4 linked regions of the Homo sapiens genome follow. The protein of the gene in region 3 interacts with the protein of the main gene of each other region in a pairwise test. Each region holds a gene or a part of one and is shown on either strand. Other genes may lie near its edges. The genes, in order: RBAK, PPP1R12B, PRKG1 and FAM124A.

Evidence for each region.
Region 1: the proteins of PRKG1 (region 3) and RBAK interact in binary tests that used the Homo sapiens proteins (3 or more experiments, as listed by UniProt).
Region 2: the proteins of PRKG1 (region 3) and PPP1R12B interact in a two-hybrid assay, tested with the Homo sapiens proteins (one study listed by BioGRID).
Region 4: the proteins of PRKG1 (region 3) and FAM124A interact in binary tests that used the Homo sapiens proteins (3 or more experiments, as listed by UniProt).

What each region holds. Positions count from the first base shown.
Region 1 is NC_000007.14:5,048,858-5,055,897, forward strand, and holds part of RBAK (RB-associated KRAB zinc finger protein), read left to right. Parts: intron 1-7,040. UniProt on the Homo sapiens protein: May repress E2F-dependent transcription. May promote AR-dependent transcription.
Region 2 is NC_000001.11:202,351,685-202,358,724, reverse strand, and holds part of PPP1R12B (protein phosphatase 1 regulatory subunit 12B), read right to left. Parts: intron 1-7,040. UniProt on the Homo sapiens protein: Regulates myosin phosphatase activity. Augments Ca(2+) sensitivity of the contractile apparatus.
Region 3 is NC_000010.11:52,267,484-52,274,523, reverse strand, and holds part of PRKG1 (cGMP-dependent protein kinase 1), read right to left. Parts: intron 3,175-7,040; coding exon 3,035-3,174; intron 2,133-3,034; coding exon 2,043-2,132; intron 1-2,042. UniProt on the Homo sapiens protein: Serine/threonine protein kinase that acts as a key mediator of the nitric oxide (NO)/cGMP signaling pathway. GMP binding activates PRKG1, which phosphorylates serines and threonines on many cellular proteins.
Region 4 is NC_000013.11:51,281,398-51,284,779, reverse strand, and holds the end of FAM124A (protein FAM124A), read right to left. Parts: 3' UTR 541-3,382; downstream 1-540.

The sequences.
Region 1 (7,040 bases), on a different chromosome or scaffold from region 3:
AGGGAGGGGGAGGCGCTACACACTTTTAAACAACCACGTCTTGTGATAAGTCACTGAGTGTCAGGAGAACAGCACCAAAAGGGAAATTGCCCCCATGATCCAATCACCTCCCACCAGGCCCCACCTCCAACATTGGGGATTACAATTGAACATGAGATTTGGTTGGCGACACAAAGCGAAACCATATCACCATCCATGACATCATTTGCATTCATTATAAGGAGAAACCAACTTTGTTACTTGTGGATTTAAAAGATTTTCTAGGACTTGGAAAAATTTCTTCATTCAAGTTGATATAATTGCGGATAGCTTTCCTAATAACAACCATTAAGTTACCATAACTTATGGCTTATTCTTGGTGCTTATGTAAGCAGAGGGCCTGCCTGCTGCCCAAGGAGAACTTGGTGCATATAATTTTTCCAGGGAAGGAAACATTGTGATCCCAGTAGACAGAATTCTGTTTTTACTGTTGAGTCCTAGATCATGGGGGGAATGAATGACATGATCATCCTTCAAATATTTGTTCGTCTTTCAGTTTGGGTTGCACAGCAAACAATACAGTTACTCTCTTGTGAAGATTTCCTCATTTCTGTTTCTCATTTCAGTTCTCAGTGTTTTAGTTTTGTCCTTTTCACGTTGCTGAGTCAGTCTGTAAAGATTACCAGTGATTTCATTGCAGTCAAATCCAGAGGGGATTTCCTAGCCCCTACCTCCCAGGACCCTTTGTCTGCCTTTGACATCTGTTACTTCCAAACTGATACTTTCTCCATGGAGTCTCTCTTTTCTTGGCTTTTAAAAAGATTCGTCTGTAAGTATTTCTGCTTGTCTTTAAATGATGAAGTCTGTTTTGTTTTGTTTTGTTCTGTTTCTTTTTTTCTTTTTTTGAGATAGGGTCTTGCTGTGTCACCCAGGCTGGAGTGTAGAGACGTGATCACAACTCACTGCAACCTCAGTCTCCTGGGCTCACACGATCCTCCTGCCTCAGCCTCCTGCATAGCTACAGGCGCAAGCTGCCACACCCGACTAATTTTTTTATATTTTAGTAGAGACTGGGTTTCACCATGTCACCCAGGCTGGTCTTGAACTCCTGAGCTCAGGCAGTCTGCCCGCCTCGGCCTCCCAAAATGCTAGGATTACAGGCGTGAGCCACTGCTCCCAGCCTAGAGATGTATTCCCACTGTATTGCTCAGACTGGTCTCAAACTCCTGACCTCAAGCAATCCTTTCACTTTGGCCTCCCAAAGTGCTAGGATTACAGGTGTAAGCCACCACACCTGGCTAATAAGGAATCTTTTTGAAAGGGGCTAGGAATAACCCATAATACTCTCTTAATACATGTGGCAATTGGGTTAAATCTTTTAATAGTTCCTATATTATGTCTCTTGCGTGCTCATTGTTTTGAAGAAACTGGGTTGGTTATCCTCAGTTTGGATTGTGTTACCCTTGTTTCACCTTTAGCACATTTAAAAAATATATCTTTTATGCCTTGTTAAATTGGTAGTTTGATCTGGAAGTCTAATCAGGTTTATGTTCAATTCTTTTCACACAGCTGTACCGTACGTGGCATTTGTCTACTTCTGGAGGCATGTGTTACCTTCTTTGTTTTTGTGAACTTAAGAACTATTGACTGTTGATTATTGCTGTGATTTACTAGTTCATTAGGGGAGGCAAAATGGTGATGTGCTAATTCTACCATTTCTTCTTTATTTACTAGCCAAAATACCTTTCTTTTCTTTTCTTTTTTTGGAAACAGAGTCTCACTCTGTCACCCAGGCTGTCGTGTTTACGGCTCACTGCAGCCTCAAACTCCTGTGCTCAAGTGATCCTCCCACTTCAGCCTCCCAAGTAGCTGGGAGTATAGTCATGTGCCACAATGCCCAGCGAATTTTTTAATTTTTAGTAGAGACAGGTTTTGCTATGTTGCCCAGGCTGGTCTTGAACTCCTGGGCTCAAGTGATCCTCTTCTTTGACCTCCCAGTGTTGGCATTACAGGCATGAGTCACCACAGCTGGCCTAGAATACTTTTCTAAAGATAAATTTCTGTTCTCTATTTGGTTATGTAATTCATGCAGGAAAGACAGTTTCTAAAATGTTGAGTAGGCTTCTAAGCAGGAAGGTTTTTTTGTTTTGTTACCATTATGAGCTCGTGGGTTTAAACAGATAGTAAATATTTCAGTACATCAAAGTTGTGATTCTTTTTGAAAATTAAATGGCTCCATCTTTGGCCAGACAAAATCCCTTTAAGTTGGTTTCTGAGTCCTTTTGAAATATATTTGATATATTTGATAGCAAATCTATACATACAATATATATTTGATAGCATTATTTTCTGTTCAGCATTTTATTTTGAAATCATTTCAAATTTTCAGAAAAATTGCACGGATTTTACAAAGAAATCCCAGCTACTTCCTTTTGTTCAGATACTTCATTCTTAACATTTTCCCACATTAATCATTTATATGCATATATACATATATGTGTGTACATATTTTTATATATTTTTTTTCTGAACTGTTTGAGAGTGGGTATGATTTGTCATGCCTCTTTACCTTATAAAGTTTTAGATTATATCTCATAAAATCAAGAACTTTCTATTAAATACCCATAGCACAGTAATTGAATTCAGGAAATTTATCATTGATTTAATACTTTTATCTAAACTGTAGTTCATTTTCCAGTTTTGCCAATTTCCCAATAATTTCCTTTATAGCAATTTTTAATTTTTGGTAGAAGATTCAGTCTAGGACTGTCAATTGCCTTTAGTTTTCATGCTTTTTAAGGCTGTTTAATACGGATTTGTTCCTCAGTGCCATTATAATATTTGCAGAATACAGGCCAATGATATTATAGAAGTCTTTAAATTTAGGTTTCCCTGATCTTTCTTCATGATTAGATTTAGTTGGTGAATTTTTGTCTGGAACACTACATGGGACCTCTTAAATTTATGGCTCAGAATAGGATCTGTCTTGGGAAACTTCTGTGCATGCTTGAGAAGATGGCTTGTTCTGCTCTGGTTGGGTGGAGTGTTTGATAAATGTTAATGAGATCAAGTTGGTTGGTTGTGTTGTTCAGGTGTATTATATCCTTGTTGATTGTGTGCCTACTTGTATCAATTGTTGGGGAGAGGGGATTGAAATCTGCTGCATTTGTGGTTCTCTTTCTCTTTGCAATTTTACCACTTTTTGCTTTATGTATTATATTAGATACATAAATGTTCAAGGTTATTACATCCTGTTGATTAATTAACCACTTTGTAAAATGGCCTTCCTTATCCCTGCTAGTATTCCAGGCTGAAATGTACTTTGTTATTTATGTAGCATTCTTTTGAGTAATGCATGCATGGTATATCTTATTCCATCCTTTTACTTATAACGTATTTGCATCTTTATATCTAAAGTATTATTTCTTGTAGGCAGCAAGATTTGGATCTTGCTTGTTTTCATCAGTCTATTTCTGCCTCATAATTGGGGATGTATAGACTGTTTACATGTAATGTAATTATTGATAAAACTAGTTAGGTTATAGTCCATTGCCTTTGCTTTCTTTTAGTCTCATCTTCTTTGTTTCTTTTTAAAATGTCTTTGTTTGTCTTCCTTCCTCTTGATTAATTGATAATTTTTTATGATTCTACTTTATATCTTTTGTTGAGTTTTTAGCTATCACACTGTTTTGTTATTTTAGTGAGTTAGAATTTATAGTATGCAACTTTAATTATCATAGTTTATTCTTAAGTGATATACCATTTTTCTTAGAGTAAGAGAAGCTTACAATAGGATACTTTCATTTCTCTCCTCTTGGTCTTTACACCGTTGTTCATTTTATTTTTACAGGTGGTATCAGTGCCACACAGAATCTATTACGTTGTTGTTAATTAAACAGTTATCTTTGATTGATTGATTGATTGATTGATTGATTGATTTTGAGTTGGAGTCTCACTCTGTCCCCCAGGCTGGAGTGCAGGGGTGCGATCTTGGCTCACTGCAACCTCTGCCTCCCAGGTTCAAGTGATTCTCCTGCCTCAGCCTCCCGGGTAGCTGGGATTACAGACACCCACCACCACACCCGGCTAATTTTGGTATTTTTAGTAGAGATGAGGTTTCACCATGTTGGCCAGGCTGGTCTCAAACTCCTGACCTCAGGTGACCTGTCTGCCTCAGCCTCCCAAAGTGCTGGGATTACAGGTGTAAGCCACCACACCCAGCCCAGTTATCTTTTAAAAAGATTTAAGTAATGAGAGAAAATACACAGTTACCATTTCTGGTACTCTTCATTCCTTTGTGTAAATCTAAATTTTTATTTGCTGTCATTTTACTTCTGCCTCAAGGACTTTCTTTAACATTTCTTCTAGTTGATGAATTCTTGTACGTCTGCAAATGTCTTCATTGTGTCTTAGCTTTTAAAGGTGTTTCTGCTGGATATTTCTCCACAGTGCTTTAAATATGTTTCTCTATTGTCTTCCTGCTTACATTTTTTTCTAAGAGAAATCTGATCTCATATTCATCTTTGTTCCCCTGTATATAACATGTCTTTTTTTCTTTCCCCCCTTATGTTGTAAACTTTTTATCACTAGTTTTGGGTAATTTGATTGCAATATGTCATGGTATCATTTTTTTCATGTTTCTGTTTTGGGGATCACTGAACTTCTTGGATCTTGGGTTTATGGTGTCATCACTTTGGGAACATTTTTATCATTATTTCTTCACATACCCACCACCTCCCCTCCATTGATTCTTGTTGCCTGTATATTAGGCCACTTGAAATTTTCCCACAACACACTGTTGCTCTTTATTTGCTTTTAATTCTTTTTTCTCTGTTTCATTTTATGTAACTTCTGTTGCTGTCTTTATATTCACTAATCTCTTTTTTCCACGATGCTGTTAATCTTGTCCAGTATAATTTTCATCTCAGATATTGTAGTTTCTATCTGTAGAAGGTTAGCGTGGGTCTTTTTTACATCTTGCCTGTCTCAATTTTTTTGAACATGTGGAATAGAATGATGAACTCTCTCAGTGCTCTGTGTGGGTTGTAAACTCTGTCAATTCTGGGCCAGTTTTGATGGACTGATTCTTTTCTTCCTTATGGTTGTAATTTCCTGCCCATTTTCCCATCTCGCAACTCTTACACCTCACATCTGTCTCTGTTCTTCTTCCCTGCTCTGTGGCCTGGAAACACTCAAGGCAGAAGTTGATTGGTTCACCTTGTTTATTTCCCATCACTCATAGATAACTCTACTGCCTGATAATCAGTGCCTTGAAAACCATTGCTTCAGCCCGGGCGTGGTGGCTCATACCTGTAATCACAGCACTTTGGGAGGCCAAGGAGGGCAGATCACAAGGTCAGGAGTTTGAGACCAGCCTGGCCAACATAGTGAAACCCCTTCTATACTAAAAATACAAAAATTAGCCAGGCATGCTGGTACACGCCTGTAATCCCAGCTACTTGGGAGACTGAGGCAGGAGAATCGCTGGAACCCGGGAGACGGAGGTTGCAGTGAGCCAAGATTGTGCCATTGCACTCCAGCCTAGAAGACAAGAGTGAGACTTTGCCTCAAAAAAAAAAAAAAAAACCATTGCTTCATATATGTTCTCCGTTTTATTTTTCTTTCTGTTTTTGATTTTGTTGTTGCTGCTGTTCTTTGTTATGTGCCATTTCAGGTTGGAGGGTATATCCAGTACCTGTTAGTTTATCACAACTGAGGGCAGAAGTCCTCATGTCTCTCTCTATATATATTTTTTCTAATATATATATTTTTTTCTTTGTAGAGACAGGGTCTTGCTATGTTGCCAAGGCTGGTCTCAAACTCCTGGCCTCAAGCAGTCCTTCTGCCTCAGTTTCCTGAGTGCTGGGATTACAGGCATGAGCCACTGCACCTGGCCTGGATCCAGTTTTGTCCATGTCCAAATGGTGTTTTTCCCTGAGCTGTTTTTGATTTTCTTCCACCTCATATGAACTGTAGTGTCAGCTTATCTAGTTCCAGGAAAAAGCTTTTTGGTATTTTTACTGGGGTTGCATATTTATAAAGTAATTTAGGGTAACTGACTTACCCTAGGTAGGGTAAGTTGACCTTAATAATACAACTAATTTTTTTTGTTTGTTTGTTTTTTAGTAGAGATGGGGGTTTCACCATGTTGACCAGGCTGGTCTTGAACTCCTGACCTCGGGTGATCTGCCCGCCTCGGCCTCCCAAAGTGTTGAGATTACAGGCGTGAGCCACCGTGCCCGAGCACTTTTACTTTTTCTTAGTTATATTCCTCTAATTGTTTTATCTTCTCTAATTGTAGATAATGAGCATTTTATTAATACCTTGTTCTTGATCTTAGTAGGAAGGTATGTAGTTTTTCCCTGTTAAGTAAAATCCTGACTTTTGGACCGAGAAGACTGAGGCATAAATGTGTGTGTGTGTGTGTGTGTGTGTGTGTGTGTGCGTGCGTGTATATACACACAAACTGTATATATATGTGCTTGTGTGTAATTGAAATACATATGTCACATATATATCATACATACTATTGCATATTAGGGTGCAATATTTATATTTGTGTATATACATGTTATTGATGTTAATGAAGTATCCATCAGTTTCTATTTTCTTTAGTTTGTTTTTTTAAATCAGCTTTTTCTGTCAAGCTTTTTCAGGTATCTTCACGGATACAAGATTTTTCTTCTTTGCTGTGTTATAGTGGCTTATCATATTAATAGATTTCCAAATATTAAACTAGTCTATATTATTGGAATAAGTCCCATTTGGCTATTGTATATTATGTTTTTAATCTGGTACTGGATTTTGTTTGATTATGTTTCATTTTGGGTTTTTGTATTGATGTAAGTGGTATTGGCATGTAATTTTATGTTATTTATTGGTTGATCAGTCTTCTAACCCCTACTACCTCCTTGCCTTCTGGACTAACTTAACCCAGAAGGTTATTACTCTCTCTCGGTGATTTTATCAGCTCCTGTGGCCTGACTGTGGATAAGCTTGGATGTTCTGCTTTAGTTTCTCAGCCCACAGCCTAGCGGCCCTGCCTCTGCTATCTCTTGGGA
Region 2 (7,040 bases), on a different chromosome or scaffold from region 3:
TCCAATACTGAAAACTCAAGTTTCAGTTTTTTTTTTTTTTTTTGAGACGGAGTCTCGCTCTGTCACCCAGGCTGGAGTGCAGTGGTGCCACCTTGGCTCACTGCAACCTCCACCTCCCGGGTTCAAGTGATTCTCCTGCCTCAGTCTCCCGAGTAGCTGGGACAACAGGCGCGTGCGACCACGCCCGGCTAATTTTTTGTATATTTAGTAGAGACAGGGTTTCACCGTGTTAGCCAGGATGGTCTCAATCTCCTGACCTCGTGATCTGCCTGCCTTGGCCTCCCAAAGTGCTGGGATTACAGGCGTGAGCCACCGCGCCTGGGCAAAGCTTCAGTTTTTCAATTGAATTGCCTCATGAAACAAACATAAACTCTGCATGCCTGATAAAACTTTAAGCCCCCAAATTTTACTCAAACTGGTTACAATCTAAGATCAGAAGAAACAATTTTTTTAAATGACACTTCAAAAGCAGGAAAAACCCCAACATATTCACAGACAAAAACAACATCAACAAATTGGGCAAGCACTCAATTAGCAATCCAAATGAGGCTTCAATTCCTTGTCCTATATGACATTCTGGGCCAAGGTCTTAATCTGGATTTATTATTACTATGTTGAACCATTAAAGATTTATTAGACATCCCAAACCTCCATATTTCACCATCTTAGAGAAGATATATATGTAATTCTCCTCCATAAGCATAAAATAGTCTCAAATACTGATAAATATAGTACTCCCCTGACACTCCTCAAGAGCCAGAATGCTAGAACAGAAATCGGTTATGTAGCCAATTTCCTATTATAAGTTATAATAGTAACCAACTATTCTGGAGACCAATCCCAAAATTCAAGTTAGTTTCTAAATTGTATCTACTGCTAAGTAAAAGTAACAAGCAGCACAGAATCAGATACACAGTAGACACTCAAGAAATAAATGTAAGAGAATGGCAGAAAAAACTGTTTATTGGTACTAACCTCCCTATCACTGTTCCCCCAAGGCTGCCTTCCAGTGGAAGTGCTAATGAGTGGGAAATGGGCCAAACTAGACTGAGAAGTAAAATAAACTAGATAAGCAGCCATCAGTAATAGGGACATAACTTTCTTGCCCCTATTATCAGGTTTAATATCCTAAAATATTCTTAACTGATGAATAATGAAACCACCTGAACTAGCCAGAATTCAGCTTTTAAAGTGTCTTGCCACATATTTTGGGCCCTCATTTAAATTACAATTATATTGATGGAAAATCTATATTTTTTCTCCCAAAAGTCAACAGAAAGACAAGTTATCCTTAATGCAAAAAAAAACTTCATATAACCTCCACAAAAGTCTTCAAAAATATCTCTACTGAAAGTGCTCTTTCAAAGTTTAAATGACCAAATCCAACAGTCTTTTTACAGGCCTTCTCCTCAATTTCCTTTTACATTATTTACCATCCATTCCTTGAAATACCTCAATATCACTGTTTGTCGGTTCTTCTCTGTATTAGTTTCCTATTGCTGCTATAACAAATTACCATAAACTTAGTTGCTTAAAACAACACAAATTTATTATCATAGCATTCTGGAGGTCAGAAGTCTGAATCATGGCCAGATGCAGTGGCTCACAACTGTAATCCCCAGTGGCTCACACCTGTAATCCTTGGGAGGCCAAGGCGGGTGGATCACCTGAAGTCAGGAGTTTGAGACCAGCCTGGCCAACAAGGCAAAACCACGTCTCTACTAAAAATACAAAAATTAGCTGGTTGTGGTGGTGGGCGCCTGTAATCCCAGCTAATAAGGAGGCTGAGGCAGGAGAATCGCTTGATCCCGGGCAGCGGAGGTTGTAGTGAGCCAAGATTGTGCCACTGCACTCCAGCCTAGGGGTCAAGAGCAAAATTCAGTCTCAAAAAAAAAAAAAAAAAGTCTGAAATCAGTCTCATTGGGCTGAGTTGTCAAATTGCTGGCAGGGCTGGTTCCTTATGTGGAGGCTCTGAGAGAAGAATCCACTTCCTTGCCTTTTTCAGCTTCTAGGGTCCACCTGCATTCCTTGGCTCACAGAACCTTCCTGGAATCCCTGCAATCTCTTGCTTCCTTCATCACATCTCCTATTCTGATTCTGCTCTCTTGCCTGTCTTATATGGATGCTTGTGATTATATTGGGCTCACCTGGATAATCCAGGCTAATCTCCTTATCTCAAGATCCTTAAATTAATCATATCCCCAAAGTCTCTTTTACCCTGTAAGGTAACATATTTACATGTTCTGGGGATTAGGACTTAGACATTTTTGGGGCACCATTAGTCAGCCTACCACATCTTCCAACAGCTCTAACTTGAATTTCTGCATTCTCTGCCTACCAGCTGCTTGTGTTTTCTGCTCTTCTCTGTATGTTTTCTCCCTTTCCTCTTTCACACTCATTACTTCAACTCTCACCTTTATGCTAAAATCAAGTCTCTTGTCTCAAATATGAGAAAACTGGAGCATAGATAGGAAAGTGACTAGCCTTGAGTCACATAGATACCTACAGGATATTTACTTACTTACTTACTTATTTATTTGAGACACAGTCTTGCTCTGCTCTGTCACCCAGGCTGGAGTGCAGTGGTGTGAACACAGCTCACTGCAGCTTCAACCTCCTGGGCTCAAGTGATCCTTCCACCTCAGCCTCCTATGTAACTGGGACCACATGTTTGCACCACCATACCTGGCTAATTTTTTTTTGGGTGGGGAGGGGGTTGGAGAGATAGGGTCTCACCACATTGCTCAGGCTGGTCTCAAACTCCTGGTCTCCAGCAATCCTCCCGCCTTGGCCTCCCAAAGTGCTGGGATTACAGATATGGGCCACCATGCTAAACACCTATAGGAGATTTCTATTTGTACGTCTTCAGAGTACCTCAGTCTAATCGTTGACTGAATACTATTTCTACCTGAATAACACAATTCTTTCAGACTCACAAGCTAGAATTGTACTACACTTTTTTCTCATCTCCATTCACTCAGCTGGTTCTCTCAACTCTGTCTCTCCATTCATTCAGAAATCCAAGTGCTGCTTCAGAATCCTAAAATACTGCTTTGGTTGGGTAACGACCCTGCTCAAACCCACAAAAATTCTCTACTAAGGAGTCCATCAAGCCACCTTGGCCTGATGTTTGATGTTCAAAGCCCTCTAGGATGTCACCCTGACTCTCTCTCATCTCTAACCCTTCAAACACATCCATTAGGATTTCCTAGCATCCTCTGCCTACACACCACACCCATTCCTATTTATTCGCCCATGCTGCTCTACCATCCTGGACTGCCTTCGTTTGTCCTTCCACTTAGGAATACATCCTTTCCAGGGTATCATAGAATTTGGAACTCTAAAAGGAATCTTTTTTTTATTTATCTGTTTCCAAACCTGACTGTTAGTTCCTTGAGGGCAGAAATTATACCACATATATACTCTAGTACAGACTTACAATCTACCATTTAGACATTCAATATTAGTTGTTAATTAAGAATCTAAGAAAACCTCTAAAGAGAAAAATATAGTGGAACACGGCCAGGCATGGTGGCTCACGCCTATAATCCCAGCACTTTGGGAGGCTGAGGCGGGTGGATTACCTGAGGTCAAGAGTTCAAGACCAGCCTGGCCAACATGGTGAAACCCCGTCTCTACTAAAAATACAAAAATTAGCTAGGATGGTCTCGATCTCCTGACCTCGTGATCCACCCGCCCAAAACCCCGTCTCTACTAAAAATACAAAAAAAATTAGCTGCGCATGGTGGCAGGCACCTGCGGTCCCAGCTACTCGGGAGGCTGAGGCAGGAGAATGGCGTGAACCCGGGAGGCAGAGCTTGCAGTGAGCTGAGATCACACCACTGCACTCCAGCCTGGGCGACGGAGCAAGACTCCGTCTCAAAAAAAAAAACAACAACAAAAAAAACAATTAGCCAGGCGTGGTGTCACCCCCCTGTAATCCCAGCTACTCAGGAGGCTACGGCAGGAGAATTGCTTGAGCCCGGGACGCAGAGGTTGCAGTGAGTCGAGATCGTGCACTGCACTCCAGCCTGGCTGACAGAGCGAGACTCTGTCTCAAAAAAAAAAAAGAATGGGACACATGTAATTAATGGCATATTATTCAAATATCAAAAACTTTACTCTAGGCCAGGCATGGTGGCTCTTGTTTGTTTATAGACACAGGGTGTCACTCTGTCATCCAGGCTGGAATGCAGTGGCACGATCATGGCTCACTGCAACTCCAGTTCCTGGACTCAAGCTATCCTCCCGCCTCAGCCTCCCAAGTAGCTGCAACTACAGACATGCACCAACATGCCTGGCTAATTTTATTTTTTTGTAAAGACAAGGTTTTGCTATGTTGCCCACGCTGGTCTCAAACTCCTGAGCTCAAGTGATCCTCCTGCCTCAGCCTCCATCTATTGTGATTATTGGGACAAAATAACTGATGAATGACTGTCATGGGCTGAGGGTGGGAGGAGCTGTCTACCAAGGAGCACAAAAAATCTTGAGGGTAACGTTCTACATCTTGATTACAGTGGTGGTTCCACAACTGTACGCATTTGTCAAAACTCATACGATGCTACACTACAAAGAGTGAATTTTATTGTATATAAAGTATATCTTAGTTTTAAAATATTTTAAAAGAAAAAAATAAACTACTTAGTTTTATGTTAACAACAAGACTGGTCCAACTCCTTACCTTTGGCAGAATTGTGCTTAATCCATATATATTGACAGGTTGCCTATTTCAAAATACTCACAGAGTAGAAGATTCTAAAAGCCCAAATGGTGATATACAGTTATTCAGCAGGAGTTGAAGAATTGGGGAGAGGCCAGGCATAGTGGCTCCTACTTGTAATCCGAGCACTTTGGGAGGCCGAGGGGGGAGGATTGTTTTAGCCCAGGAGTTCAAGATCAGCCCTGGCAACATAGTGAGACCCCCTTGTCTACAAAAAATTTTAAAAATTAGCTGGGTATGATGGGGTGTGCCTGTAGTCCCAGTTACTAAGGAGGCTGAGGTGGGGAGGATCACTTGAGCCTGAGAGGTTGCAGCTGCAGTGATCCATGGTCACACCACCACACTCCAGTCTGGGTAACAGGGCAAGACCCTGTCACACACACACACACACACACACACACACACACACACACACACAAAGAAGAAGAATAGGGAAGAAATTCTGCGGAACAAATGAAAGTCATTTTTATTTATACTTTCAAAAAAAAAAACCACACAGACAAAAAGCTGAATTTCCCAATATGGCTTTGAGGTCCAACATAGTCTGATGCAACATATTAAGCAATTTGAAGAGGTAAGCTACTAAAATGGCTCAGGATAGATGACTATTCTAGATGCACAATAATAAAGGAGCAAACAGGATTTTTCTGAATCCTATGTTGCCATGGGTCCTGACACTAAGCAGAATTCATCAATATTCAGGGTAAGGCAAAAGTAACTTCGCAGGTGGAACCAGGAGAGGAATGAGTAATAAATGTAGAATAAAAGAGAAAAGGTTAAAAGCACAAGTTTTATTTTACCATATGAGTTAGCACACAAAATATACTATTTTATATTGAACTGAACACACATTCATCTTACTCATCTTCTGTCTCTGTCTGAATATAAATTGCTCAGCCTATCCTCCTCCCCTCACTTGTTCCTATCTCCATCTCTCTTCCTGAGAAATACGTGATTTTAGCCTCCCTAAGTCTACAGCGTCAGACTGAGGCAACTCTAGAATGACAAAGGCTTATTCAACTACAAACTGAATTCCAGTCTGGTGTGACCTTGAGGGTCCAAATTTGGACCCTGCACATTACAAAGACAGTCTGAATTTCTTTTTTCTTTTTTTTTTGAAACGGAGTCTCACTCTTTTACCCAGGCTGGAGTGCAGTGGTGTGATCTCAGCTCACTGTAACCTCCACCTCCTGGGTTCAAGCGATTCTCCTGCCTCAGCCTCCCCGAGTAACTGGGACTACAGGTGTGCACCACCACACCAGGCTAATTTTTGTATTTTTAGTAGAGACGGGATTTTGCAATGTTGACCAGGCTGGTCTCGAACTCCTGACCTCGTGATCCACCTGCCTCAGCCTCCCAAAGTGGTGGGATTACAAGCGTGAGCCACCACCCCCGGCCGCCAGTGTGAATTTCTGAGTCAAGTATGGAATTATTCTAATCTCCTTGGTAGCCCTCCAGATGAAGACTGATCAGACCGTGCTAAGAGACAAGACCTATGGTGACTGAAATCCAGCATCCCTCACCACACTCAGCACAGATTTAAGAGTCAACATAATACATGCTGAAGTAAGTAAGCATTCATTTTAATAAATCCTAGAAAAATCTCTTTTCTGAAAGTAGGCACTTGCCTCTTCCCACAGCAATAATTTGGTAGATATCATGTATCTAGGCCTAGAGTACCTAAGATTATAATGCTAAGGATATCAAGATAGGTGCTAACAGTCAAACTTAATAAATAAATAAAAGAAAAAATTTAAAGTACTATTCCACATAGAATTATTAACAAATATTCCTGGCCTTACAATGTGTATACGCAAATGAAACAGAAATTCCTTTGTGAGCAAACAAGTGCTTTCAAGGGTTCTATAATCAGATTAATACCTTGTTAAGGACTCTAGGACAACACATGCATACACACCAAATCTTAATTTAGTCACTGAAATTTAGTCTGCATCAGTTTCCAAGGCTTTCATCAGAGTTGGTCTAACCTTTGAGATACTTCTTATCCCAGTCTAACTCAAGTATTATTAATAGGCCCCCTGGAGCTTGTTATCTTTGACTCAAGCACCTCGTGGTCTCAGCAAAGGCTGCCAAGAAAGAAGGTCTCTAAGTCCAAAAGAAGCATCAAGGCACCACAAGCTGCAGTGCAAATCATCTACTGTGACGTTGTAGGAGGAGAAAAATTGTCCCCCAGTATTATCTGGGGGCTTCTAACATGCCAAGACAATAATCCACAGTTGGTCAAGTGGCCATGGCCAAAAGAGAGAAAAGAAGCAATTATCCAGATAATTTATATCGTGCTTGTATAACAAATGGACAT
Region 3 (7,040 bases):
TATATGATGGCATGTATATATATATATGTATATATATGATGGAATACTACACAGCCATAAAAAGGAATGAATTAACAGCATTTGCAGGGAACTGGATGAAATTGGAGACTATTATTCTAAATGAAGTAATTCAAGAATGGAAAACCAAACATCACATGTTCTCACTGATATGTGGGAGCTAAGCTATGAGGATACAAAGGCATACGAATGATGCAATGGGCTTTGGGGATTTGGGGGGAAGAGTCGGAGGGGGGTGAGGGATAGAAGACTACAAATATGGTGCAGTACATACTGCTTGCGTGATGGGTACACCAAAATCTCACAAATCACCACTAAAGAACTTACTCGTAACCAAATATGACCTGTACCCCAATAACTTATGAAAAAATAAAAAAATAATAAGCTATAAGAGGGATAGCTGGGCTCTCCCTTTGTGGCTTATTATTGCTTTCATGTTTAATTCCACCTGTAAATCTTCTTCTATTCTAATTAGAAAAAAAAGTAGAAGACTTCAAATAAATCAGTGAATTGAAATATCAAGTCAAATATAATACAGTAGAAACACATTAGATATGCCAAATGTTAACTCACAGATTAAAATATTAACTTTGTGCCACAAACTATACATTCTGAGGAGAGAGACCCCATCTGTTTTGTTTATTACTGGATCCCCAGCCTCTATCACAATGCCTGGTATATAATCTCTATGTACATATTAACTAGCAATAATACATAATATATACACTATGATATAATAGCTTAGTATAGATGTTAACCTTATCGCCTAATGCCAACATGATTACATTCCCTTTTATGCTTTTTTAACCTTAAATTTAAGAATTGAAATAAAATACCGATGCAATAGGATACAATGTGGTAACAAGAAATCCATTTGGCATATATAAGAAAGGCCATGGGAATAACACGAAAGGGCCTGTTGTACAAAGATATGAAGGTACCATAAGAACACCATTAGGAATGAGAATTTAAATCAACAGTTCATAAGGAACCACTTGTTTTATTCTGGGGTATCTGCAAAGTAACAAATATAAAAACATTACATGGTTATATACATCAGGGCTACCTATAGCTAAGTTTCAGAAGGATGCTACCCTGTGAAGGAGAGTCTGGGAGGCAGGACTCAAACAAATAAGAAAAATACAGATGTCTAAATGTGAGTGTTCAAAAGAACAAAGATGACTTTTGTATGATCAATAAATCATTCATGGAAAATAATCAAAAGATTATTCATAGGAAAATAAAAGTGTGTTTTTAAAAAAACACAGGGTAGATAATGATCTCCTGAGACATTTTATAGGATAAATTATATTAGAAGATAATTAGATAATTTGCTAGTTATCTAAATATGAGATGGAAAATTAAGACAATGAATTTGCATGATTAGAACAAACAAGCACCATGTAGACAAACTTTCCTTGCCCTGGAAGGGTAAGAAGGTAAATCTAAATCAGATAATTTACATGAAATATTGCTTATAAGTGGATTCTTTTCTTTTTCCTAAGACTAGCCAAGGGATAAAGAGATGGCTGGAAACTTTTGTTAATTTTGAAACCAAAGAGCCATGTAAAGGTAGAGGGAAAAATTACTTTGGAAAAAATTCACAATGTCACAAAAGGCAAACTGCCTATCTGGAAAAAGAGTAGAGCAATTAAACTGATAGTTAATTCAAATTATAATTATAAAATAACTATAATTCTCTTTCTGCTAAAGCAATGAATTGAATTCCAGCTACAGAGCTAATTCTAACATTCATGCAAAACTAAGGCCATGTATATATTTTGCTATGTACCATTTTTATGATCGACTAAGCCTGTATTGTTAGTTACAAAGTGAGTTTTGTTATATGTACAGTAAATCATATGTGTATAGTGGGTTATGCCCTGTGCTTACTTTAAATATTGAAATATAAGCATGTGTAAATTATAAATATGATTATTATACTTTATCATATTAACTCTTCTTATAGACCAACATGGGCAACTGTTTTTAGAGATATCATAGAAATTTCTTAAATCTCCTACCTATCCCTGAGAATGGTCCAGAGCTCTCCACCTAGACAAGCTTCCATCAACATATACAAATATTTGCTGTCCTTAAATGTTCTGTACAGTCTGTAAATTGCAAACAAGAAAACAAAGATTATAAACATTACTGTCTTTTACAAGTGTGCAATTTTGGGGGGCCCAGATTATAGTTTTGATTTGCCAAGCTCAAAATTTTGTCAGAATGAGAGAGATCTAAGCCCACACATGGGGAAAAGAAGCCAATGGCTCATGAATAGGATTTTAATAGAAGAAACTAAGGCGCTAATCTCTCCCTTGAAATGGATTAATCATAATGATTATGGACAAAGAGGGTTTCTTGGGATTCTTTCCATTCCAATTTGGGTAATGTTTTGAGCATAGACCCTTGGGGCAACATTTAGTGGTCATCAACATGCAGTGAAAATGGGAATAAAGTGGATTAAACTTTACAGATTCAGACATGTATAAATTTCATATGCTATTCGCTCAAATTCATGTTACATCTTGTTTTCAGTAAATGCCACTGGAAAATTCACTACAAAAAGCTGCTTCCACATATAAAAATCTCCCCATTATCCATTTATTAGTACTGAGGTGGAATGGTCAGCTGTCATTTCATTTTTTTAGATCTTCAAAAAATATTCAGATAATTAAAGGTTAAATAGTTTGATTTTGGATATTTTGTCTTTTAAGCATCAAAGGTCTATGTAGAGTTTGGGGATTTAAAAAAAGATAAAAATGGAATGTTAGAAACTCTGGTACCTCCTTTGGGAAAACACATTGTTTTCAGACACTAATTCTCTTTAAAAGAAAGAATAGAGTCAGAACTTTATTTTTAGAAATCAAACAAAACTTTCTTAAGATTAGATTAAAAAGAAGTTTCTTTGTGCATACGAAATGTGTTAACAGTGAGCACAAGTGGCAGAGGGTTTTGTGGTGGATTTGTCACTTGGAGTTGGGTACGTCTGTCCCTGGCATGGAGCCTTTACCTCACTATGAAATCGGAATGAGCCCCCTGCATGATCTGCTTCTCTGAGCGGATGTGCTCCTGCTGTCTTGTGTCCACAATGTGACGTTTCTTGAGAATCTTCATTGCAAACGTTTTGGATTCTTCACTTTTCAACTGGACCTTAAAGAAAGAGAGAAGAGAGTAAGAAAAAGCCCATAGACTTGTAAGAGTGCATTATTATCCCCAAATTAACAGGTACATGGCGCACTTAAATGAACCTCAGCCACCTCCCAAGTCAAAACACAGTAAATCCTTGGTAGAGCTGCGTTTAACATCCAGGGCTCACAGCTATCATCCAATCTCATGCTCTGAATTGGCTGAATTTTAACTAACTTGATTCCAAATTAATTGTGTTCACGTGTGGATTAGAAGAGGGAAAATGTACTTAGTTCTAGTTTTATTATTTCATGTCATAGAGTGTGTTTGAATACATTTTATAGTTCTTCTGTCAAAAGAGTAGAAAAAAAACTTCTTTTCCAATTTTATTTCAGTAAAGATGGCCAAAAATAGGGTTATATGGGCCTTTATATTCTTCCTCCTTAGTTCTAATCCACAAACATTTCTAATTTTTTTTATCTTTTTTTTAAAATTTTATTATTATTATACTTTAAGTTCTAGGGTACGTGTGTACAACGCGCAGGTTTGTTACATATGTATACATGTGCCATGTTGGTGTGCTGCACCCATTAACTTGTCATTTAGTATTAGGTATATCTCCTAATGCTTTCCCTTCCCCCTCCCCCCACCCCACAACAGTCCCCAGTGTGTGATGTTCCCCTTCCTGTGTCCATGTGTTCTCATTGTTCAATTCCCACCTATGAGTGAGAACATGCGGTGTTTGGTTTTTGGTCCTTGCGATAGTTTGCTGAGAATGATGGTTTCCAGCTTCATCCATGTCCCTGCAAAGGACATGAACTCATCATTTTTTATGGCTGCATAGTATTCCATGGTGTATATGTGCCACATTTTCTTAATCCAGTCTATCATTGTTGGACACTTGGGTTGGTTCCAAGTCTTTGCTATTGTGAATAGTGCCGCAATAAACATACGTGTGCATGTGTCTTTATAGCAGCATGATTTATAATCCTTTAGGTATATACCCAGTAATGGGATGGCTGGGTCAAATGGTATTTCTAGTTCTAGATCTGTGAGGAATCGCCACACTGTCTTCCACAATGGTTGAACTAGTTTACAGTCCCACCAACAGTGTAAAAGTGTTCCTATTTCTCCACATCCTCTCCAGCACCTGTTGTTAACATTTCTAATTTTTAGCTTGAGTGGTGGACCCTAGTCTCTGCTGAGACTGCAGACTGTTATTTCTTCAGTACTGACTGTATTCATTTCTTCTTTTTAACCTTGCAGAATTTTCCCTCCCTACAGTTTAAAGAGAAAAAAAATTGTAACAAGATTTTTTCAGGAGATTTTGAAAACCGTTTGTTTTTCTTCTCAAACAAGCATGATGGCTTTAGTTCCTTTGACCTCAAACTTTACTCTCTAATAACTGGGAAGACTTGGAGGCTTAATATCTTTCAATGTGCCATGCCTCTCTTGCAGCCCTCATGGCTCCCAGTGGCTCCAGAGGAGGCATGGATCTTCCACATGCCTTACTCAGACAGGGTGCTGTTTATGGTTTTACAAGAAATTTCAAGAAGGTGACTTGTAACAAAAACAAGAGAGGTAATAGAGCTAATTACTTAAAAGCAATGTAAGGACATTATCATCTAGTGCTCTCAAGCAGCAGAATCCTCAAGATGATACCAAACAGCCCATATTATTTGGGAGTAATGTAACCTTGGGGAAATAACATGGCATGCTGTTTCTGCTTTTCAGCTGAAGTATGGCTGTCCCCTCTTTAGTCGTTAATTATTTACTGCTTCATCAGCAGGGATAGCGAAGGTCTTAAGTGTCTTGTTCCTGCACACATGTACAGATTGAGTTCAATCTTCGAAGATATTCATGTGGCAAGTTCCTTAGGAGGGAGCATGAAGATACTGCAAATAAATGGGCCTCGGTTAGCTGCCAGCAATTGTGAATCAGTATGACAGGTAGAGGGAAAAATGGGTATTTGAAAATGCTTTTAACAGCCAAAGACCCTGTACTCTGGCTGTGAAACTCAAAGATGACAGATTAGTGTGCTACAAATAAATTCAGTAGTAACTCAAAATAAAACACCAAATGTGAAAACTCACTTCTAAAAGAAATCTGGAAAGCTAGGGAAGATGGCATGAAAAATGAGCTATGTTAGAGTACTACAATTCAGAGAAGAAGAAGTAAAGTCATATTCCCTCTTCAGAGTCATTCCCAGTTAAACTAGTGAGGACTGTTGTGCAGTTGTTCAAAAATGCCTACTATAAAAATGATTCTCTTTAGTGATGATAACACAGATACACAGATTTTTTTTTTTTTATACTTGTACACAGGGTAGGAGGAAAGAATTCAGCCTTTATAGTCACAGGTCTGGACTTGAATTCTGACTCCACTTAGTCCCTCTCAGTCTAAGCAACTAGTCTCTCTCGGGCTAGTTGCTTAACTGCTCTGAGCCCTAGTTCTAGCTGAGGATAATACCAGATACCACAGTTATTATGATCCTAAATGAAAACGCACCACCAAATGGGCATTCATTGATGGACTCTGCTTGTACCCAGCAATCTCTACTGAATAGGGCAAATCAAATGTTGCTTTTTCAGAGGAACAAACTGATTTCCAAAAATGATTCCTATCTTTCCCAAGGTCACAGAGCTATCAAGTGGCAGAAATGGATTCATGTTCAGGTTTTTTTTTGGCCCAAGCTATTTCCAGTATATGCTGCTTCCCTTCAGCTGAATACAAAACCAATTAAATGCATAGTGATTGATACTTTGCAAATCAGAGTTTAACGGAATCGACTAACTCATGGACTGTGAGATAAACTGAACAATATTTCTATTACCTTTAAGCTTAACTTATGCTAGGCATGTGATTTGGGAGAACAGCCAAAGCCTCACTGACATTTTCCTAGGCACTTCCCAGGGACCTCCATGTGTTAGGGGTTTGAGATACCCGATTGCTTGAATACTGCAAGGAGAAGCCAAGTGGGGTAGAAAGAGGATAATGAGAACTGGTGGGTGGCAGATGTCATAAGAGATAGGTAAAAGCTACAGAAAGCAACAGAAATTCTTGGGAGTCAGGCTTACTAGTTGCCAATTTAAAAAGCATTAATTACAAAAAGTTTATAGAACTATACTGCTAACCTACTGAGGCTTTCTGCTTTGCCTTTACTTTGCATGGAACCAGTCCTTGGGTCTAGAATCATCTTCCTTCTTTGGACTCTATACAAGATCTCATGAGCTCCTTAGAGCAGGGCCCTTAGAATCTCCACTTCCAATTTAAACCAGAATGCTACAAGACTCACAGAACTCAGGATCTTAACCAGAAAGTCAGGGTACCTGAGGACCACTGGTGTGAGCTAACTCAACAGAGACAGTGGAGAATGTTGAAGTTAATTATTTCCATAAAGCCCAAGTAACATATTCATCAGAAATCTTCTGATAAACCAACAACTTCCCAAAGATCATTCAAGAATGTTCAATTCAACATTGTTTCTAATGGAAAAATTTAGAAACAATCTAAATTTCTAGCAAGAGGAGGAGCTTGAAAAATAAATTATGGTATATCCATGCAATGCAACTGTAAAAATGATGACTTAGAATTATATTTAACATTACGGAAAAATAACCAAGACATATATATGAATAAAAGATACTGATTACAAGTCAGCATGCATTTTATGATCTCACAGTGTGTTCGTATGTTAGTGTGTATATATACATTCATATGTATATATATACACACACATCTATATGTGAAATAAATGTATGAAGAGACAATCAGAAATGTGTTCATCAATACGTTAACAATGATTTTTCCTTAGGGAGATTTTTAGTTGATTTTTACTTCTTTTTACTTTTTGAATTGCTTAACTTTTGAACAATCCTCATACCTTGCTT
Region 4 (3,382 bases), on a different chromosome or scaffold from region 3:
GGTGGTACAGTCCAGTTCACTCTGCTGTGACTGTTCCCCTGCCCTCAGACCCGGAGGCTCAAGGAGCAGCCACTACTAAAACCCAATTTATTCAAGCACACATCAACCCTCCCATGTCACAAAAGTCTCTGCAGTGGCTCACCCACTGCTTCCACCAGTTCCTCTTATGCTCCTTTTAACCAGTTGAGGTGACCCAAGATGATTTCTGTAGGACTTGCCAGGTGAGTTGGGGACAGACAGAGAAAGATTTGCTCTTTAAAGCAGACACTAGGTGGTGTTTAGTGTAGGCCAAAGTGGGACCGTGAGCAGTAATTTGGGGTTGAGGGGATCTTACTTGGAAAAGAGGCAAATGAGGGATGGGATGTAACTCAACCAGAGCACTTACCAACACATCCCCTCCCTGGCAATGCTGGAGGAAGCGTAAGGCCAAGGAAACAAGAGACACGGTTCCATTAAGCGACAAAAAACCAGGGCTACAATCTAGACTTCTTACACTACAGAGCCTAATACATAGATATAATTTATGAGACAACCTCAATATTTTTCAATTGAACACATTTATTGAGCACCTACAATGTGCCAGCATCTTTTACAAGGATAATACTCCAAACGAGTCAGGATCCTCCAGAGAGTATTGGAAGCCCTTCTGGATGAGGAAGATGCTACTGGAATGGCCAGGAATGGAAGGGAAGGCTTTGGTAAATGTGTTCCTGTGATTCCCTCTCCGTGGAGGGACTGCCATTTCCATGTGGTCTACAGTGGGCATCCTCTCCCTGCTCACCTGATGCTATGGGAACATTTTGCATTTCTTGCTTTCAAATGTTGTCTATGATGTCCTTTAGGGTCACTCAGTTTGGTAGATTGGACTGTGATGAGGGCGGGTCCAGAGTTGTACTCTAAAGCAGTCCTAGGCGAGCATGTGAGCACACTGAAATAAGGACACTGATTAGGGAGAAAGAAGGAGCCAGCCCTCGGCCATTAGCCTTTTTTTTTTTTTTTTTTTTTTTTTTTTGCCTCACTGACTTTTGTTACTGATGAACTTGCTTCCCTGTTCATTGGAGGTGGTATCATCACCTCTGAATTATTTTTCTCCTTCTTCCTAATGTTTGCAGGTTGCTTTTCCTCATCAGCTATTGACTGAATCACATTTCTGGGCAGAAGGTGGAGTGCTGGTGGCTTTCCAGGAATCAGCTCTGCAGAAAGAAGCTCCTTCCTGTTCTGAGCCCTGTGGTTCTGAAGTCATTGGTCTAACCTGAGTAGCCCACTTTTTTGGCATGACACACCACAGCAGCATTAGGCGGGAGACTTAGAATTTTTGTTGTTGACTGGAGCTGGGATGTTGAATCAACCTCAGGCAGCAGCCTAGCTCAAGGGATAATAAACTATGACCCTTGGGCCAAATCTGGCCCACCAGCTGTTCTTGTAAATAAAGTTTTATTGGCTGGGAATGGTGGCTCATGCCTGTAATCCCAGTGCTTTGGGAGGCCAAGGTGGGTGGATCACGAAGTCAGGAGTTTGAGACCAACCTGGCCAACATGGTGAAACTCTGTCTCTACTAAAAATACAAAAAATTAGCCAGGCATTGTGGTGCGCACCTGTAGTCGCAGCTACTTGGGAGGCTGAGGCAGGAGAATGGCTTGAACCCAGGAGGCAGAGCTTGCAGTGAGCTGAGATTGCGCCATTGCACTCCAGCCTGGGCAACAGAGCAAGACCCCGTCTCAAATAAAAAAAAAATAAAGCTTTATTGGAACTCAGCCATTCCCATTCATTAACATATTACTCATGGCTGCTTTCATACTACAGTGGCAGAGTTGAGTAGCTGCAAGAGACCATATGACTGGCAAAGCCTAAAATACTTATTATCTAGCCCTTTTCAGAAAGTTTGCTTACTCCTTATCCTGAATTAGGAGACTATATTTTTAAAAATTTAAATTAGAGCAGAATATTACATTACAATTCTGAGTGTTAGAGAGTCCAGAATGCTTGGGGCAAGGCCTAAGGCTGTCATTACAAGGATGGCAAAGACTTGAAGCTTCAGCTGAAGACTGATGGTTGGTAACTGCTGCCTGGAGGGTCGTGTTGGAAAGGACTCTGAGGCTGTGTCTGGGCTGGCGTGGGCATTTCCAGAGAGATGAACACTGTGCCATGATTAATTCAAGGAGCACCAGCCTGGGAATTGAGCTTGGCAAACCCATGCTGTTCTTCCTCAAAGGTAAATAGTATCCAGGGACAGCTTGGCACTGCCCCCGATGCCAGCCTTTGGCATTGCTGAGGTTGGGGCTGTAAACAAACATACTCTTACTGAGGTGAGAGGGAGGTGAGATTCAAATACCATTCACGGTGTGACAGTAGCAGATAACAGGCAGGAAAAGCCAAGGTTGCTGGGCTCCAGCGTTAATTAAAGCTCCCATGCAATCATGTGAGGCTGGCAGTGCACTGGTGTTTGTTCAGGAGAGCGTTTCAGGTAAAGTTTCCCGTTTTGGGGAGAACAGCATTATTAATCTGTGTGATCAAAATGCTGGCTAAAATGTTCCAAATCATTTAAAAATGAGAAACATAGGATGCGTGACCCAGCATGGTCACTGCAGAAAGCAGTATACAGTGCGGCTCTTGTCATTTGAATATAGTCCTTAGACTGTGGTTTTTGAAAGTTGAAGGATCTTAAGACTACCTACCCATGATGTCTAATGGCCTATAATTCTGTAATCCCAACAAATGCTCTTCCTCAGTGATCCAAATAAATTCAGGTAGTGGAGTGGTCTTCAGAAGCCCCTCATCCATTCCAGTGAAATGTGCTGTTGAAAAGGTGTATGCAAATCTACTTTCTGGAACTCACATATTTTAAATGCACCAAGAGTCTGTTACTCATGCTAAATCTTTATGAAACACATTAGCAACTTTTGTATAAATCCAGATTTGCAGGTGTTGCATGGCTTCAAGATGAGGAATTACCTGTAGTCTGATATACGTTTACTTCTCAAGCTGACTTTTTCCATTATAAGCAGTGCTTAAACATCCCTAGGGCCACTGTTCTCTGGTAATGTAAATATATATGGAGAATCCAGTAAGGTGTGCGTTACGTTATTATGCAGTAATCCCTCATACAAGTCACTTACTATCTCTCCCACATTCAACGTTTTGGCCTTAATTGATTTGCCTTCATACCATGGAAAAATTGCCAAATTGGTTCTGGCTGACTAGGTTTTCTTTTCATTTCAAATAATTATATAAGCCATTTAAATTGTATAAACCCACTAAACCATACCTCAAATGCTGAATATTCAAAAAATATATTTTATGACAAGTTTGTTGAGAATTTATTTGCATAAAAATGCCAGTATTTTTCTGCTGTGTCTCTAGAGATATACCACCCCCCAGCTAA